Linked DNA regions of Homo sapiens: region 2 is linked to region 1. Evidence: fine-mapped expression QTL. A gene starts in region 1. The other region holds a variant in brackets. All regions are shown on one strand. Distances are from middle to middle. Region 1 holds the start of CCDC18-AS1 (CCDC18 antisense RNA 1). Region 2 overlaps CCDC18-AS1 (CCDC18 antisense RNA 1).

Region 1 (10,206 bases):
TCTCACATGCGAACTCAAACTAATCTTTTTAAACATTATTGTTTATGTCATCCCCCTTCTCAAAAATGTTCACTAACTCTTTCCACTGCTTACAAAAGGATCTCCAGACTTCTTAAAATGATGTGGAAAGACTTGAGACTTTGTAGTCAGAAAGCTTGGGTTGCATTTCCAATCTGCCACTTATTCACTCTGTGACCTTGAATAATCTCACTGGGCTTCAATTTTCCCATCCATCAATTGGGATTAATGACTAGTTATAAAGACCAAATACATGTGAAAGTGCTTTATATTTTTAAAGTCCTATAATGAATATAACCTTTTTTCCTTTTTTTTTTTAATTTAGAGATAGTTACCAAATTACAAATAGCTTCAGCTTTGGAGTTAAGTAACAACCTGGTTTGAAATTTCAGCTCCATTACTTATTATCTGTGAGACTTTGAACAAATTAGTAAAACTCTCTGAGACTGTTTTCCCCCCATGTCAAAACACCTATTTTGCATGGCTATATGGAAATTAAATGAAATAGCAAATATGAAAAACTTTTGGCCCAGTGTATAATTCATATCAGGCACTGATCTGTTTTCTTTTTGCCCTAACCTACTTTTCCTGCATCATATACCACTACACCTCTTTACAAACCTTATTAATAGAGCCACTCTAGACTACTTTATTTCCCCAAGCCATACAATGTACTTTTGTGTTTTTTCTTCAGCTACATGCTCTTTCCTTCCCTATCAAAATTGTACTCAATCTTCAAGGTGCAGTTAAAATATCCAGTCCTCCATAAAACCCTTTGTACTCCACAACTAGTGTGTTAATCACTTCTTCCCATGCATTCTTAGCCTGTATATTTTATCACAATATTTATTTGAATCTGGTTTATATTCTGCTTCTCCCACCAGATTATAGGGTCTTCAAGAACAAGGTGGGAGTTATATTCATCTTTATTTCTCCCACATCATAGTCAGGACACTAGACAGTTATTGAATGAATGTAGAAATCAGATGCTGTCTTCTCTTTCCACTTTCTATAGGACACCACTTCTACAAATGCCTGCCCAAACATGTGCAAAAGCAAGCACATCTTCTCTAAACAGCTCCCTTTCAACTCCACTGTTTTTGACAGTGACACTCCCCTAACCCTACTCTGAGGCTAAACTTTTTTTTTCCTTTTCTTGAGGCAGGGTCTCACTCTGTCACCTAGGCTGGAGTGTAGTAGTGTCATGGCTCACTGCAGCCTCAGCCTCCTGGGCTCAAGTGATCCTGCCACCTCAGCCTCCCAAGTAGGTAGGATCACAGGTGTGCACTACCACACCTAGACAACATGAAAAAAAAAAGTTTCATATATATGCATTCTCTCTGAAACTCTTAAAGCTTAATAAGGAGATGTTCTCTTTGTCCTTAAAAGCCTATTTATAATACAGATACATGTAGTGTACTATAAATAACTATTTAAATATGGGCTACAGATTAGCATATTTTATGACATATCACACTGGTATTTATATCCAATTAAATTTCTCTCAGCCACGTATGTAATAAACTAGTTACATGGTTCATTACTAGTTGAAGACTGACCAAGCCTGATAAAGATGATAAAAGACACTAACATTATATAACACTTCATACTATAAAAAGTACTTTCACACAACTCTCATTTGATTTTGAATCCTGTGTGTTACATAATATTTCTATATCTGAACTGAAGAAAATGAGGCTTGGAGAGTGACTTGTCTAAGTAAAAAAAAAAGCTGGGACTGGAACCTACAACTCTTACTACACATTCAATTCTGTTTATGCTACCACAGAAGCCTGTAGCAATAAACTATTACTGAAATAATGTGTGCTCTACTCGTCTATTTAGCATAAGTCTATAAACATAAATGTTACATGAAAAAGCAAAGTTATAGTTTTTTCAGGAGAGACAAGATAAGGGTCAGTGACACTGTGACAACTTGGGACATTTTTTGCCAGCCAGCTTTTTCAGACGGATAAACTTGTTAAGGTCAAGATAAATTTAGGCACCATAATAAATCTTTAAATCAACAGTAAACTGACAAAAAAAAACAAACCCACCACTTCATAAAGTATTTTTTTTTTTTTGAGATAGAGTCGTGCTCTGTCTCCCAGGCTGGAGTGTAGTGGTACGATCTTGGCTCACTACAAGTTTTGCCTCCAGAGTTCAAGCGATTCTCCTGTCTCAGCCTCCCAAGTAACTGGGATTACAGGTGCCCACCACCACACCCAGCTAATTTTTGTATTTTTAGAAGAGGTGAGGTTTCACCATGTTGGCCAGGCTGGTCTCGAACTCCTGAGCTTAAGTGATCCGCCCCCCTTGGCCTCTCAAAAGTGCTGGTATTACAAGCATGAGCCACCATGCCCAGCCTGAAGAAAATTTAATTAAAATACTGTTTTTAATCAAAGAAATTTTGTTTTGACTAAATTTAGTAGCACTGAAAAACAAGTGTCTACACTTCAGAAATTAAAGAACCAGTAAGTTGTCCTGCAGAAAATGCTAAATGAAAAAATAGCATAATAAACTGTAATGTCTTCTTGAGAGCAGCATATAGGGCTCAGACAGAACGTTTTAAGAAAACACTGTCAACAAGCCAGTTGCCATCATATGTATCAAGAGTAATGAATCTGATGAACCAAAGTGACAAAATGGATTTCAACAGTGTCTTGTTTAGTTTTTAGAAATTCCAACATCCCACTATTTATAGTATAGCCTCTTCTTCCACATGACAGTATGACAGACTCAGTTTTTTTACTTTTTTTTTTTTTTTATCTTTTTTGAGACAAAGAATCTTGTTCTGTCACCCAGGCTGGAAGTGCAGTGGCACAACCGCAACTCACTGCAGCCTTGACCCCCTGGCTCAATCGATCCTCCCACCTCGCCCTCCAGAGTAGCCGGGACTACGGGTGCCTGCCACCAAGCCTGGTGAAAAAAAAACCCGTGTTTCATATTGTCATATAGAAGAGGCTATACTATAAACAGTGGGATGTTGGAATATATATTTATATATATAAATATATATTATATATATATATATATATATTTTTTTTTTTTGTAGGGACGGGTCTCACTATGTTGCCCAGGCGGGTCTTGAACTCCTGGGCTCATGTGATCCCCCTGCCTCAGCCTCCCAAAGTGTTGGGTTTACAGGTATGATGAGCCACAACGCCTGGCTGACACACTTTTTTTTTTTTTAAATGCAATTTCTGTTTAGACCTTGACACCTGTTGATATTACTAGTCACTATGGAAAGAAGTAAAAACAGTTGCTTAAGATGCTCTAACACTTTTTTCCCCTGTAGAAGCCAACATGGAATACAACATGAAAACTGTCTAAATGGGAACCTTCTAATATAGCTCATTGTATGCCATGCATTTCCACTCCATTTCCACTATGTTGGAACTGACTTCTGCTTTCCTACTTAGCCATTAGGCGACTTAGTTGCCTCTAGGCAAGTAACTTCTCTGAAATGTTTCATTTTTCATGAAGTTTAAAAAAAAAAAGGTGAAGGACTTTAGAGAGCTTTGAACCGAATAAGGTCTATCAGACATCTTGAAAAGCTTTTTCTCCAGACGACGCAGAAACAGGCACACGGGGTTCTGCTTTCCCCACCTCCCACCCCCAAGCCCAGGTCCCATTCTTCTCACTTTCAATCCTCATTTGGGCTCCTAAAGGAATAGCAAAGAGAGTTATTTTATCAATACCAGCGCTCCTCTGTCCCCAAATCCAGCTAGGGAAGGTTTCGGAGGCCTCAGCTACTTGAGAGAGGGTAGAGACGATCCTTCCTCGCCTATCTACCCAGCCACCCACCCCTTCCCAGATGTAGCGTCCGGGCCCCAGACCAAGCGCGTGCTTGGAGCTCTCCGGTACAGTGAGGCGCGCGCTTGCCTGGCTAGGGTCCCTGTGAAGGAATGGGATCCCGAGGTGCTTGCCAGGACCGTAGCAGGCGGAAGCTGCTGGCAGCGCGAACGGGCGGCTCCCGCCGGCGTGGGTGGGGGAAGGGCGGCAGCCACACCCGGAAGTCGGTCCGGGAGGGAGGGGGAAATCTGAGGGAACGAGGCTTCCGGTGGCGCAAAGGGTGTCGGGAGCGGCTTCCTGCAAACCTTCCCTGGCATCTGGAGGGACCACCGTTGCCGCGTCTTCGGCTTCCACGATCTGCGTTCGGGCTACGCGGCCACGGCGGCAGCCACTGCGACTCCCACTGTGCCTGGCTCTGTCCATATTAGTTCCCAGGCGGCCGTCGCCGTTCCAGCAGCGGCAGCGGCAGCGGCAGCGGCGGACATGTTGTGAGGCGGCGGCGCGGGTGTCTGAAGGATGGTTTGGCCGAGGCGGCGGCAACGGCTGCTGGCGGCGGCGGCAGCGGCAGCGGGGCCTCGGGCTCTATAGAGCCGAGCCCGCTGGGTACCCGCCCGGTACCGCGGCGAGGCCAGTGCCCCTGGATCTTGCCTCTGCTCCGACGCCGTTGGGGACCAGTTAGGCGACAGCGCCCGCCCCTCTGAGGAGACACGAAGGTGGTTCCCCAGCCGCTCAAATTTCCGGACCACCGCGCTTTCCCCTCCTCAGCCTGGGCTGTGCTCTCTCTAGAATCCTCGGGCCCCCACTTTCTTCCCAAACTCATCCTAAATCTCTCACACACGCGAGTGTTCCCAGCCCTCAAGCCAGCTGCTCCTCCGTTCATTTTCTGCACCCTCTTCGCAAAGCACCCCCCGGGATCACTCTCCGAGGGCGACTTTTTGAGAAATCTCGGTGGAGTAGTGGACCAGAGCTGGGGAGTTTTTAAAAGCCGGGGCGCGAGAAACAGGAAGGTACTATGGCTTCCTCGTCTGGCAACGATGATGATCTCACTATCCCCAGAGCTGCTATCAATAAAATGATCAAAGAGACTCTTCCTAATGTCCGGGTGGCCAACGATGCTCGAGAGCTGGTGGTGAACTGCTGCACTGAATTCATTCACCTTATATCTTCTGAAGCCAATGAGATTTGTAACAAATCGGAAAAGAAGACCATCTCACCAGAGCATGTCATACAAGGTAAGTCGTGTGTGAGAGCTGGTTTGAATGAGGTTCTAGGGTAGCAGTCTGCTAATCGCGTGACCCTTTCGTGTCAAAGCCTCCATTCCTCTTCCCTGGTAAGTAACTTAATGAAAAAGCCAGACTGGCATGTAGGCAGCCGGTGCTTTAAAAACAATCCCTTTGTAGCATTTTTGCAGTACTTTTCATCCAGCGAATACATGTAAGGAGTGCAAACATTTAGGTCAGCGTCCCCAAAACGTAAAGAATAAGAGTGATCTCACTTTACAGCCAGGTAAGCCGAAGCAACAAGAATTACTTGCCTGAAGTTGAACTTAGATAATAATTAAGGAACGCAGAAATTCTCCTTTGGAAAGTTAAAATTCAGACGGAGGAACTTCAACGTGGGTGGAGACAGAGCACCCCCTTCCCCACCTGACCTTTCACCAATGTAGAGGAAAAGATTTATTTTCTGAACACATGAGTTAAAAAATTCTTAACATACAATGTGTTCAACGTTGTCAAGTTTATCGTTGTTAAATAAAAGGTGTATGTTTTCTGCTCTAAAAATGGTTTGATGGTACGTTCATGAATGAGTTACCAAATAACTCCTGTTCCATTCTGTAAGAATAGGGTGAACTTTAAATTTTCGTTTTTTTCTTTTCGTTTGCTTTTATGTCGTTTGCTTTGTTCTATTCTGTGGAGATAAGTTTTGAAATCTTTGATTGAAAGTTTATGCAAGTTTTTTTTTTAACGGAAAATTTCCCCGTCCTTTCCTGCTGTCATTCCTATTTGAATGTATACACTTAGGCTTTTATGGAACAGCACTTCTGAAAACTTCAACAGTTTCTTTTATCCTGGAAAGGATTTGGTCCCGTAATAGGGATTTGGGGGACTGTATTCTGGTGGTTTCAGAGAGGAGAAACATATTTACTATTCATAATGTTTCGGGAACGTACCTTTTGCGATATTTTTACATGTACTCTTGTGAAAGAGTTGTACTCAATTTGAGGTGAGAACTTGCCTTTTGTAATAATCTAATTAAAGTTATTGATTGCTTGTGAAATCAGGGAAAAATGATTAATTTTAATCATTTTGATAGGCAGGTGGTTGTCTATCACTTAATTTTTATAATTTAACTTTTTAAAATGTGACTTTCCTGTTGTACTGAAGTAGAGAACACATCTGCTTATATTGACCATATCCAATATTTTACTCTCAGTATTGACAAAAGGATTAAATGATTCATTTTTAATCCTTTATGACGTCTTGAAAGTAGTTTTAAAATATATCCTGCCATTTCAGTACACAAGCAGAAAAATCCCTAGGAAAAAGCATATTTGATTCTTAAAACTAGTACTAGTTTTTTTTTTTTCTACTTGTTTGGTGTGCTGAATACTCTAGCAAGTAAAATGAAAGCCAAGTTGTCTATTTTTTCCCTTGTGTATTTATTTTTACATTGTATGTGTGATTGCTGTCATAAGTCTTTCACAAGATTATCCAGCACAGATAGCTATAATTTCTTTTTACAACTCTTAAAAAGGAAAAAGAACCTTTATCAACATTGCCTTTCTAATGAAAATTGCAAAAGATTTCAGCAGGGTCTGCCTAAACATTTGTTTACACTACAGAAGTGGGGATCGTTCCAAAAACCTAATAACACATTACAGTCTGTCTTCTTGGGGAGAGTTGATTCTTTTCTAGGATATATTTAGATTTCTGATTGACATGATGGAATAGAAGTGCAGCTGTAGCAAGCAGTATGCTAAATAATTCAACTTTGGAATATGCTAAATTCAGTTTAATGTGTGAGTCAGAAAGCTATAGTGAAAAAGCATTTCCATTGTGTAATGAAGATGATTTGTTTTTAAAAATCATGTATTGACGTGTTACCTTAAATTTAAAAATTTACCTTTTTTTCTTGTATTATGCTATTCTTAAAAGTGGTTAAGAATCTACATTTTCGCCCAAGAATTCTCCCTAGTTGGGGTTGTAGACTTTATACATTTATAATCTCATATTGCTTAATTATTCCAAAGAAGTTTTGTTTTGAGAGATTACATTTTTAAAGAAATTCTTAAGGTTTATATGTTTTAGGTGTTTGAAGTGTGTGCCTATACACTAATCATAATAGGACATTTTTATACTTTTCTGTCAGCATTGATTAGGAATGTAGAATATATCCAAATGGAATAAGTAATGTACATTTTAAAGTGATATGATTCTCACATGTTGAAGTTTGGGTTTTTAGTGATAAGTTTAATGAATTAGACTTTGCTTCAGGACATTTCACTTGTTCATTTCTCACCTTGCTTTATCTTGTCTGAGCAAATTAAGCATTCTGAGATAGTTCTGTAAAATGCAAGTTAAAGTTGAACTAATTTTATCACCAGTATATCTATGAAATAACTTATTTAAAAAAATTTTTTTTTCTGTTTTGCTTATTTTGAGTTTAAGAAAGTAGACTTGGTATTGAAGACCATAGATACATGAATAGAGGGAGTTCTAAGCTATAAAAGGTGTTCCTATTTTGTTGCAGTTTTTTGTGAACACGTATTCTTGAATGAGTTCTAACATGTTCTGTTGCCTTATAGAAAGAATTGACATTGAGAGTCAGCTGTAAGTTCCGCACTGAGAATTCTTTAACCTTAGGGAAATCTTTTAACTAAGGTTTTCTTATTTGTGTACAAATAATACTTGATTTCAGGTATTACTTGTAATTTTTGAGAATTAGTCAGGGGTTGAGAACCTTACATGAAATATCTCCCCTCACATTTATGAGAATTGTAACTGAAAGTAGTAAAAGTTTGAAAGAGTATCTGAGAATTTGCGTCTTCAGCTGTTGAGTTGCTCCAAGCTGTCTTACGTTGAAGGAATTTTTAAAAAATTCCTGTCCTTCTCACACTAGTAGCTTTGTAAGATAACATGAAAATAGATCACTGGAAAAGATGAGGGAAAGACCAACACTCAATTTTTTACTATTTGATTCAATAGACATAAAATTATTTTGTCAAATTGCAATGAAGGTACTTAAATGCTTTGAATTTCCATACTTAACTAATGTTAACCATTAGGAGCAGTTTTGGCATAAGTCCATGGACCACAGTTTGAGAACCTTTGCTCTAAAGCCTAAACCAGTCTCTGTTGGAAAGTGGACGTAAGTAGTAAATAATCGTTTATACAGATATTTTTTCCGAAGGGACACATCTAATTTGCACTGCAAAATTTATCACATAATCAAATGCTTTTCAAGTTAGGATTTTATTAATACTTTTCTTTAAATTAATATATCTTTTATTTCTGTTTTCCTTCTGCCACCCCACAATTACTTATTGAATACTACCAATTATTTGGCATCATGCTAGGTACTACTAAGGATATTAAGATAAATGATACTCAATTCCTTCTCTGCCATTAGTCTCTCATTGTTGTCCAAGATTTCCAGTAGTGATACCATGGAGGACATGGTTCTTAAGGGGTTTCAGAAACCTTTGCCAGGCTAATGAGCCAAGAAGTCACTTTGGCCTACATCCTCTTAATGTATTTTATGTGAAATACATTAGTTGCTTCCTTCCCACAAACAAAAGAAAATGGAGAAATTAGAGAATGCTGATTTATATAGTATTTAAAAGGTACTGTATATCACGTAATTTTACAAATGAAAAACATGTTTTATGCATATGAAGTATAAAGTGAGTCACATAAATTCATGTTATGACAGAACCTTTCAGGAGTACATCACTTTGTAAAATAAGATAAGCCTATATGAAGATTATTGTTGCTTCAAAGAAATTTTTACTTCTTTTTTGTTTTTTTAATAGCTGTCTTGTTAACATCTGTCTTTTAAGCTGAAAAATGTGCAAAGTATTTTTTCCCCTAATGTACACCATGGACTTTTCTGGTTGTAGTTTTGAGATACACGGCATAGGGTGACAGATAGTGATGTGTGTTAATTTTACTCACAAATTTTTAAAAAAATATTTTTCTGTTTTGGAAAGATGAGATCCTTAGAAATAGGGCCATGAATAGTCCATAAGGTCTCTGTACAAATTAGAAAAAGGCACTCCTTCCTTAAAAAGCATTACTACTGTCTGCCAGAAAAAGTATCACAGTAAACATACGAATTTATGGTATTTACAATAAGAATGGCCCTCTAGTATGTTGTGTACTGAACAACCTACCTAACTGTATGTAAATGGTGGCCCTGCTTGGGAGCCATTTCCTTTATCCTTTAATATTCTCTTTGTGTAAAATGGGAATGATAACTAATACATGATAGCAAATAATGTAAAATATCTCTCTATTTAGAAGGTATTATGTCCAGTTATTGATATCTGTTAGCCCAATGTGTTTAAAATTAAAGTCAATGAAATTTTTGAAATTAAATTTATGGCTGCTCCTTTTCAACCATTTTGTTGAGAGTATAGTTTTTACGTATGGCAACTCTTTGAATAATATTAAATATTAACCTTGGACCTACTTGAAAGCAGTGTTCTCAGCCTTAAATGTTTTTAAAGGTAGTTATATATTTAAAAAAAATTCTTAATCCAAGCCCTCCATGGTTAAAAATAGCTTGGATTGGATTTTCTTTCTTTTTTTTTTTTTTTTTTTTTTTGAGACAGAGTCACGCTGTCAGGCTGGAGTGCAGTGGTGTGACCTCGGCTCTCTACAAGCTCTGCCTCCCGGGTTCAAGCAATTCTCATGCCTTAGCCTCCTGAGTAGCTGGGATTACAGGCGTGTGCCACCACGCCTGGCTAATTTTTCTGTTTTTTGTAGAGACAATGTGTTGCCATGTGGGCCAGGCTTGTCTCTAACTCCTGACTTCAAGTAATCCCCGTGCCTTGGCCTCCCAGAGTGCTGGGATTACAGGCATGAGCCACCATGGTCGGCTGGCTTGGATATCCTTAATGTCTAGTATAGTAACTATGGTATTTTGAAGGGTTGTCTCTCCATTGTGTTGATTTGTTAATTTTATAAATTTGATATTTTATAAATATGCTTGTCCAGCTTGTATTTAAATATGATATTGTATAGCTATACATTTATTTAGGTCCTGTACACTTATGAGGGTACTCTTTTAAATTTAAAATAAAAAATACAGATGAGAAATACATAGTCTGAGTTGGTTAAGTGATTCTTAGGTGCTAGACACTGTCAAACGCCTTATATTAATTACCTGTTG
Region 2 (10,206 bases), 25 kb before region 1:
AGGTGGGAGAATAGCTGGAACCCGGCAGGTGGAGGTTGCAGTGAGCCGAGATCGCACCACTGCATCCCAGCCTGGGAGACAGAGCGAGACTCCATCTCAAAAAAAAAAAAAAAAAAAAAAAAAAAAGAGCCAAAATATAAATCCACACATTTACAGCCAAACTTCTTCCACAAAGGCACCAAGAACATACAATGGGGAAAGGACAGTCTCTAATAAATGGTGCTGGGAAAACTTGATAACCATATGCAGAAGAATGAAACTAGACCCCTATCTCTTACCATATACAAAAATAAAATCAAAATGGATTAAATACTTAAATGTAAAACCTGAAACTGTGAAACTACGAAAATAAAACATTGAGGAAATGCTCCAAGATATTGGTCTGGGAAGATTTTTGTGGCCTCAAAAGCATAGGGAACCAAAGCAAAGTTGTCAACTGAGATTACATCAAGCTAAAAAGCTTCTGCACAGCAAAGGAGACAAATAATAATGTGAAGTGATCGCCCACGGAATGGGAAAAAAGATTTGCAAACTACCCATAATAAATAATTGTTAATTCTTTATTAATTTATTTAACCCTAACTGATTTTCCTGGCTATTAGGAAACTCAGAGCTTAATTTGTGGTTCATCTTTAAAAACTGAGCATGCTTTTGTGGTTGTGCTTATTATATATATTAACCTTATACATCTCTACTCCCAACAAAGCCAGCTTTATCTTATTTTATTCTGGTATTTTCTCTGCTAACCCATTAAATTATGGCCCCTTAGTGAACCACATCTCACAGTGTTCCCACATTTGTATGGTGCTTTTCCTTAAATATGGGCTAGGCCTGTGACTTGCTTCAACAAGTGGCATGTAGCAAAAGTGACACAGTGCCAATTCCAGGCCTCAACTTTAAGGAAGCCTGGCAGCTTCCGTTTTTGTGCTATTTGAAGCTCCGAGCCACATGTAGGAAGTTTGGCTACTCTGCTGCAGAGACCACATGGAAAGTGCTACATATGGAGGTCATGTAAAGAGGAAGAAGCCCTGAAACTACATGGAGAAAGAGAGAAACTCAGTTCAGCCTCCCAGTGTTCCAGCTGAGCCCAGCCTAGATTGTGGAATCATGAGCAAACTAATGAGTTAACCAATTAGGTAAAGAAGAAATAACCAAATGGTCCCATTCCAGAATGCCCACCCAAGCCCTTCCTCTTTCTTTAGGATGCTGTTTCTGAAAGTCTGGCCTGAAGACCACCTGTATCAGAATGACCTGGGGTGTTTATTTGAAAGAAAAATTGTCAATCCAACCCCAGAATTTCTTGGGCAAGGCAGGATAATCAGTATCTTTAACAAAACTTTTCCAATTGATTCATAAGGAAAATAAAGTTTAAGAACCTGGTTAAGGGCTTTCTCCTGACTGTTCTCCACACTAATCTAAGCCTACCCTTCTTTTTGACAGTCTATTACTCTATTTTCAGAAGTTTGATCCTGCTGTTCCTCAAATGCTGGACCAAAATTCTAGATCAAGGAATTTCTCATGCTATTTTCCTCTCACCTATCCAGCTCTGTTCTACTTGGTTCATTCACTCTGTATCCACCTTGTCTTCAGGAGCTCTGATTTTGAGGTGCTTCTCATGTCTCAGCTAAAGAAACTCAGGCCTAAAAAAACTGAAATCCCTGACTGTGCAGATTAGTTCTGGTTCTTACCTTATTTTTCAGGCCAGCCACATCAGCTGTCCTCATCCTTAAAGTATCATGATGAGAACTTCTGAAACCGAATACAGTTAAATATAAGGACAGAAAAATATCTGATGGTTTTGTCAATTAGATATTGGTAAACTCAGTGAGATCAATTTAGGGGTGCGTTAAAGGAAAAAGATTTTGCAGTAGGTTTAAGAAAGTTTTTAACAAGGTAGAAAAGACTGAGCATGCTTGCAGGTGGAGGAAAAAGAACCAGGAAGGAAGGAAAAGTTGGTAATAAAATAATGTGTGGTTGAGAAGGTAGCATGAACCAGAAGGGATGAGAATTGATTATAAAATAAGGTCCCAGACAAAGAGGGAAGGTGTTTTCAGTTTTCTATTGCTATATAATAAATTATCCCAAATTTACCCATTTTATTATATATCATGATTTGAGGGGCCAGAGATTTCGGCAGGGCTCAGCTGGGCAATTTCTCTGCCCCACGATATCCTATGTGGTTACTTGCCAGGTTTGCTGGTAGATGGGTTAGTCTCAAAATTCCAAGATTGCTTCATTCACATGTCTGATATCTTGGCAGGAGTGACTGGAAGGTTGGGCTCAGCTAAGAATGTCAATAAGAGCACCTACAGATGGTCTTTCCAGGGTACTCTTAGGGTGACTGGCCTTCTTACATGATGGTTCAAGCTTTCAGAGAGGATATTCCAAATATCCTGGGCAGAAACTATTGGTATAAGTCTTCTTATTACCTCATCTCTCGGATCCCAGAATGTCACTTCTGATTAATTCCGTTGGTCAAGTCACTGACTGGCCTTACTGACTCAGCCCAGATTCAAGGGAAAGGGAATTACACCCCACCTCTTGGTAGAAGTGTCAAAGAATTTACAGTCATTTTTAATCTGCTATAGAAGAGGTGAATTGGATAAGATCAGAGAATATAATAAAAGATTTGCCTTGGACATGAAGACAGAATACTGCTAAATGTTGGAGTATGCAGAACTCTGGTCCTCGGCTCCTCTCTTTCTATCCAAGTGTAGGGAATGCTATGCATTTACAAATTCGTAAACTTTCTTAAAACATTATGAGATATTGTGTGTGTGTGTGTGTGTGTGTGTGTGTGTGTGTGTGTGTGTGTGTGTGTGTGTTCTATCCCAGAGTAGGGAATGCTATACATTTATAAATTCGTAAACGTTCTTAAAACATTATGAGATATTTTGTGTGTGTGTGTGTGTGTGTGTGTGTGTGTGTGTAGCTCATCAGCTATTGTTAGTGTTAGTGTATTTTACGTGTGGCCCAAGACAATTCTTCTTCCAACATGGCCCAGGGAAGCCAAAAGATTGGATACCCCTTCTATATTGTCTCCCTAGGTGATCTCGTCTAGACTCATTGCTTCAAAGAACTTTATATACTGATACCTTTCAAGTGTATATCTCTAGACCCAAGCTCCTTGCCTGAGCTCCAGAACTTGTATATCCAACTATCTACTCAGCATATAACTTGGATGTCTAATAAGCATCTCAAATTTAACATGGCCAAAACCAAGCTATCGGATTTCTATCACACCCCAAGTCTGCTTCCCCTGAGCCTTTCCGGTCCTAGTAAATTACACAATTATACACTCAGTTGCTCAGGACAAATACCTAGGAGCCCTATTTGTCTCTTCTCTTTTCCTCACACAGCACATTCAATCCATCAGTATCTACTTCCAATTCATCAATAGGTTCCATTAGCTCCAACTTCCAAAATATATTCTGAACCTAACCACTTCTTTCCATCTCTACTCTTCCAATCTAGGTCAATGCCATCATCACTTCTCACTGGTCTCTGTGGCTGCACTCTTGATTCCTCATTGTCCTTCCTCTATCCACATAGCAGCCAGAGTCATATTTCTAAAGCGTAAACCAGAGAATATAATTTCCTTGCTTAAAATTATCTAAAGACTTCCCATTGCATCAGAATAATCAACAAACTTCTCATCAGAGTCTATGAGGCTCTCCAAATCTTGCCCCATCTGTGTCTCTGACCTCATCTCTCTCCACTCTTCTCCTTGTTCATTGAGCTCTAACCACTCTGATACTCTGTCCCATGAACACACCAAGTTTGTTCATGCTTCAGGCCATCCCACCTCTTGCTCATTCTGCTTGGAGAGCCCCCCGGATCTCTTTTTATCACTTGGGTAATAAAAAGATTCCTTGTTTTTATCACTTGGGTCAGTGGTCCCCAACCTTTTTGGCATGAGGGAACAGCTTCATGGAAGACAATTTTTTCCATGGACTAGGGTTATGGGGGATGGTTTTGGGATGATTCAAACACATTACATTTATTGTGCACTTTATGTATATTATTATTGCATTGTAATATATAATGAAATAATTATACAACCCACCATAATGTAGAATCAGTGGAAACCCTGAACCTGTTGCAACTAGAAAGTCCCATCTGGGAGTGATGGTAGACAGTGACAGATCATCAGGCATTAGATTCTCGTAAGGATCATGCAACCTAGATCCCTTAAATGCACATTTCACAACAGGGTTTGCCCTCCTATGAGAATCTAACGCCTCTGCTGATCTGATAGGATGCAGAGCTCAGGCAGTAATGCGAGTAATGCGAGTGGTGGGGAATGGCTATAAATACAGATAAAACTTCGCATTCACATGCTGCTCACCTCCTGCTGTGCAGGCCGGTTGCTAACAGGCCACAGACTTGTATGGGTCTGTGGCCTGGGGGTTGAGGACCCCTGATTTAGGTGATACAAAGTGACTCAGATGTCACTTTCTCAGCCCTTTCCTGACTATCACAGCTAATGTAGTATCCCATCTCCCTGAGTCACTTTTCTCACAATACCCTATTATAGCTTCATAATGTTGATCAGCACCTGAAGTTCTAATTCATTTTTTTCTGTATGTTTATTGGCTGTCATCCCTCATTAGAACGTCAACTCCTGGGGGGCACAATTGCTGTCTGTCTTATTTACAGCTCATTCTCCAGTACCTTGAACATCACAGACAACAAAATCAACACACAATAGATGTTTATTTAAATTGGCTATTTCTTTCTTCTGGAAGGAGGTTAAAGGAAGGTGGGAAAGGCAGGGCGTGGTGGCTCACGCCTGTAATCCCAGCACTTTGGGAGGCCAAGGCAGAAGGATCACTTCAGGTCAGGAGTTCCAAACCAGCCTGGCCAACATGGTCAAACTCCATCTCTACTAAAAATACAAAAATTAGCCAGGCGTGGTGGCATACACCTGTAATCCCAGCTACTCAGGAGGCTGAGGCAGGAGAATTGCTTGAACCCGGGAGGCGGAGGTTGCAGTGAGCTGAGATCGCACCACTGCACTCCAACCTGGGCGTTAGAGCGAGACATCGTCTAAAAAAAAAAAAAGGGTGGGAAAAAGAAGGAAGACCCCCTTTTCTCTGTGATTTGGGACATAAAGTGGCTGATAATGAGAAACAGTGGGACAGGGTTTTAAGAAGGGTAATGAATTATTCTTGACTCTTCCTTCAAAAGTTGTATTTGTAAAAAACCAGTAGTTGAGAGTTTTGTTGTTTCAATTCTAATTATCATTTCTTAAAAAGTAATTTTATGGAAGAAACAATTTGAATTTTTACCCCTTTAGGTAGCATTGGCTTTCAAAAACACCAATCTCATGTCTTTTACATTCTTGGCCTGGAATTGAATTATGTGAATCTACTGGTTTTGTTTTCCACCCTCTTTATAAGATCTGCTATATCTGGTCCTGATAACACAAGGTCAAGGTCCAGGAAAGAACAAATGTCAATGCTTTCTTTCCTCATGGCCCTTCATTATAGCCTTAGTGAGTCCTTTCACGCATCCATGTCCACACATCTCTGTTTCTCATCAATACAGCCTGTGTGTTTTGAAAGCATGCAATTTATGCCTTTATATCCCTGCTTCTCTTTTTCCTATCAGCAAAATCTATGTGTTTTTTAGGAATTAAATAAGTATATTTTTCTTATATGTATTGGTCATTTTCTATATTTGAACAGTAAGTTCTACTCAACGTATATCTGTGCTGCAAAATTAATTTTCGTACTCAAATTTTGAATGGTGTTTCTTAAAATGACTTTTTTAACACTTTCTAATGAGGTGGTTTTTATTGGCTGACATATACCATTCCTCTAGAATG[T/C]TGCTGTGAACTAGATGTGAATTTATGAAGGTGATGAAAATAGCAATTAAGCTAAGAACTACTTCTGGCAGGTAAGAGCATGGTTAATTATTTTCCTTAAAGAAATGCACAAATATATTAGGTTGGTGCAAAAGTAATGGCATTGAAAGCAATGGCAAAAACCGCAATTACTTTCGCATTAGCCAAATACATAGCCAAACAACTTTTGGAAGCCAGACTAACCTGCTGGACATGCTGAACCAGTTTTAGTCTATTCCAAAAGTGGAAAGCGACATGTATGATTCATTCCTGAGACATTTCAAAGAGCCAAATATGTTTATACATGATATAGCATGTCAATATCTTCATGAAAGCTTTTGACTTGCCTTTTTACAAAAGTCTATATGCTGTTTACAAGTGTGGCTTAAGAACCAGAATGGACATGGACATGCATTGGTAACTGGTCAGCAACCAGGTAAATTCCTGTAGCGTCTTTGCTCCTAGCCTACAAATGGGCTTTTTAAGAATAAGCCTCTCACCAAGAACCCACCAAGAGCATTAAGAAATGAAAACATTGCTCAGACCTCTTTTAGCCTGCTCCCGATCTGGAATCTTGATTAGAGAACTTATTTTTAGAGTTTTCCGCATTTGTTCAACTACATGTGTAGGAGGAAAGAACACAGTATCAGTCCGAATGTGTGTCTGTGACTGTTCTCTCGCAAACTGGGGGCTGGAAGTTTAGGGAAACTGTTTTCTCGGATCCAAGCAGAATCTGGATGTAAACCATTTCTAGACTAATATCGGTTTAATTAATTCTTGTGAATCTCCAAAGATTCTACAGCTTGTTTTGGGATACAGCAATTGTTACACCAACCCACCCAATGTAACCTTTATTTTCTGAGGCCACACTTGGGGATTTTGGGTACATGGATAACAAGTTCCCACCCTGTCCTTTCTTTATAAGGACAACCAACGTGTGAGGTTTCTCCCATTTTCATGGGTCCCGAGTGGCCTCCCAGCCCTGGGAGCTTTCTCACCCTTCTGCCAAGGCTCCAGCCAGGACTCTGCACTAGTTCTCCCCCTGCTCCTGCTGGGGCTCTACTCAAAGTTGATAGGGGTGGGGTAGGGAGAGGGATTCCTACCTCCTTCCTTCTGGTGCTTGTAACAGCTCTCTGAGCTGAAAGCTGGCCCTTAGGCTAACTCAATTTAATCCTCCAAGAGGCAGTCTTTTTCTTTAAGCTTTTCTTCAGTTCTTTATTAAAGACTTAAGTTTTCTCAGAGACTAGGCCAGAGAAACGTTGAACTGTATCATAACAAATAATTCATCACATGCAGACAGCTGCTGTCCTAACACTAGCCACAAATCTTAGTTTTCTGCTACCTTAGATGAATTTCCTGCCCTCCCAGGCAGCCCCATTCACTTTCCCTCAAAATGGCTGGAAAAAGTCTCTTCTTATTTGGTTTAGGAAATATAATCATGGTATTCTAGGGTAATAATCATCACTCCAAATTCTTGTATCATTTCTTCCAAGAAGCTTTGAGACCCTCATGCAAATAATACTCTCTTATTCTGATATCTCTGCCTTTCCAAAGTGAACTTGTAGTTTATATATCTTTCTTTTCCCCTATTTGACTAAGGTGGGCCTTGTCCATACAGAATCTTCAACACTGTCCCAAGCTTCATAGAATTCCCAAGGAACTATAGTATGCACCTATGCCCTGTTCTGCACAGCAACTTGGCACCAGCTTCTTCTTTCCACTAGTCTCAACTTATTACAGTCCTTCCACCCCAACCAACTCCTACACTCAAGATCTTGACTACAGAGCTCTGGAATATTAAAAGCAACCACCACTAGCATACTGTGTGCAGAAAAAAAAAAAGTTTGGAACCCTTGGATTTAAATGATTTAGCAAAGACAGAAAAAAAAAATGTATGCTTTGGAGGCAAAATAAGTAAGATTTTCAAATCAGTATTCAAAAATACTTTTTCATTGTCTATTAATTGCAAACAAAACAGGATTTTAGTTTGTCACCACCATAATCCAAGCCCCTATCATGTCTTGCCTAGACTCCTAAAATAATTTTCCTACTTGTATTCTTTCCACCTCCCAACACATTCTCCACACAATATAGTGCTCTTTTAAAACTAAGTCATGTCACTTCCTTGTTTAAATCCTTTTGATGGCTGCCCATTTGACACAGCATAGAGTCAAACTCCTACCATAATCGTAATGGTAGTAATTAATAATAATAATAGATAAGAATAGTAGTAGGTTACCCCTATTATTCCCTATCATTGGACTTTGTTACTTCCTTCACAACATTAATTTCATTGTATTTACTTACTTGTATGTTGTTTGTCTCCCCAGCTTGAATATGAGCTTTCCAAAAGCATCAGCACTGTTTGTCTTATGTTGGATCCTTATCTCCCAGCATGGTGCCTGGTACGTATTAAGCAATCAGTAAATGTTTATTAAGAGAATAAAGTTTTAGGATTTAAAAGTAACTTAGAAACCATCGAATCCATCTAGTCCCTTTCCCCAATTCAGGGCTTAATTTTCAGCCCTCTGTAATGCAGAGGCTACTTGGATAGCAGTGTTTATGCTGGTGGAGAACAAAAAAGAACAATAGGGAGGAGCTGTTCCCTTTCCCTAATTGATTTTACCTTACTTGTTCCTACATCAGCTTTGCTTTTTACCACTTAGACAAACAGTCATATGAGTCATTTATTCATAGCCAAGCAGCTTAATCATGCATGTGGGCACTCCTTTTTGTGTGTATGTGGAGGGTGGAGAGTTATAGTTGAGTAGTTTCCAAACTAATGTTCATCTAGCTATTTGTGGAATCGTAAAGATTTTGTCTATTAGAGGCATGAGCCACCGCGCCCAGCCTATGCTCCCTCTAACAATTCTTTAATGTAGTATTTTCTAAATTATAAGCTTTGACTCATCATTGCGTATCATAAAGATAACTATGGTCTCATGAACTTTCGTTTCAGTCATAAATGTGACTGTATGTGTTTGAACTGTCTTGCTATAGATGCAAAATATATTTCTTACTGTGGGAAATAAACAACAAAAGTCTGAAAGCCACTGCCTAAATGAGCATTAATATAATATCTTATCTTAGAAAGGAGACTATTTGGTAGTCCTAGGAGAGGATTTGGGTTGACCTCAGAGCCCTCTTAGTCAGGGCTCTGAAGCTATTATGGATTAAGGTGAATGAGAATGGTAATTCTTTCTTTCTTTCTTTTTTTTTTGAGATGGAGTTGCCCAGGCTGGAGTGCAGTGGCAAGATCTCGGCTCACTGCAACCTCCGCCTCCTAGGTTCAAGCAATTCTCCTGCCTCAGCCTCCCAAGTAGCTGGGATTACAGGCATGTGCCAGCATGCCTGGCTAATTTTTATATTTTTAGTAGAGGCAGGGTTTTGCCATGTTGGCCAGGCTGGTCTCAGACTCCTGATCTCAAGTGATTCACTCACCTCGGCCTCTCAAAGTGCTGGGATTACAGGCATGAACCACCACGTCTAGCCTTTTCTAAGTGAAAGCACTATTTTATAGCTTGCAAACACTGTTAGAAAAATCTTCTGGAAGCACGGTATCAGTTATCTGAAATACATTACAAATACAACAAACACATTATTATTTTCATTAGTTCTCCATTACTTTTTTCCTTTGGCCCAACAGATTAGTACCAAAATGGCCTGGGGTCTAGTAAAAGTTGGGGAACAGGGGAAATGGGTGAAGAGAATTAGGCCCAAAAAGAACATGATGGGCTATCCTTTTTGTGCCAATTTCCTTCTTATCGCTTCTTTTTTTTTTTTTTTTTTTCCTTTTTGAGATGGAGTTTCCCTCTTGTTGCCCAGGCTGGAGTGTAATGGTGCGATCTCGGCTCACCGCAACCTCTGCCTCCTGGGTTCAAGAGATTCTCCTGCCTCAGCCTCCCGAGTAGCTGGGATTACAGGCATGTGCCACCACACCCGGCTAATTTTGTATTTTTAGTAGCGATGGGGTTTCTTCATGTTGGTCAGGCTGGTCTTGAACTCCCGGCCTCAGGTGATCCACCCGCCTCAGCCTCCCAAAGTGCTGGGATTTCAGGAATGAGCCACCGCGCCCAGCCCATGGCTTCTCCTTTTACAGTGAAATAGGAAACAAGATCATCTGCTGAGAATGAGGATGAGGGAGGAGGTATTGAAGGCTTGAGAAAAGAAAAGGCAAGAGGTAGTGGAAGAGTGAATGGACTAAGGAAACATAGTCTGGCTATGGGCAGCATTAAGGGATATGTATTTAAAGCAGGTCCAGTGAACATGTTTACCTGTTCAGCTGTGAGATGCAGTAGTTAGAGAGCTGACTTTTACCAGAGATGAAAGGAAATTCTATTTAGGGAAAGAGAAGAGCA

Evidence for each region.
Region 2: its variant is fine-mapped to the expression of CCDC18-AS1 in blood mononuclear cells (TOPMed, PIP 0.97). The same link has a PIP of 0.9 or more in whole blood.

Annotation. Positions count from the first base shown.
Region 1 is chr1:93,341,821-93,352,026 of GRCh38, forward strand. CCDC18-AS1 (CCDC18 antisense RNA 1) reads right to left here and starts at 3,991. Exons shown (of 9, transcript NR_034089.1): 1 at 3,904-3,991. It overlaps DR1 (down-regulator of transcription 1), which reads left to right and starts at 4,087. Exons shown (of 3, transcript NM_001938.3): 1 at 4,087-5,045. The coding sequence starts at 4,826. RefSeq lists enhancers at 3,682-4,217, 4,587-4,656, 4,717-4,926.
Region 2 is chr1:93,316,480-93,326,685 of GRCh38, forward strand. CCDC18-AS1 (CCDC18 antisense RNA 1) reads right to left here. Exons shown (of 9, transcript NR_034089.1): 6 at 10,123-10,183; 7 at 9,290-9,416; 8 at 8,156-8,250. Among named protein-coding and RNA genes, the nearest start is that of CCDC18-AS1, 24 kb to the right of the region's middle. The variant T/C (reference allele first, on the strand shown) is at 5,831.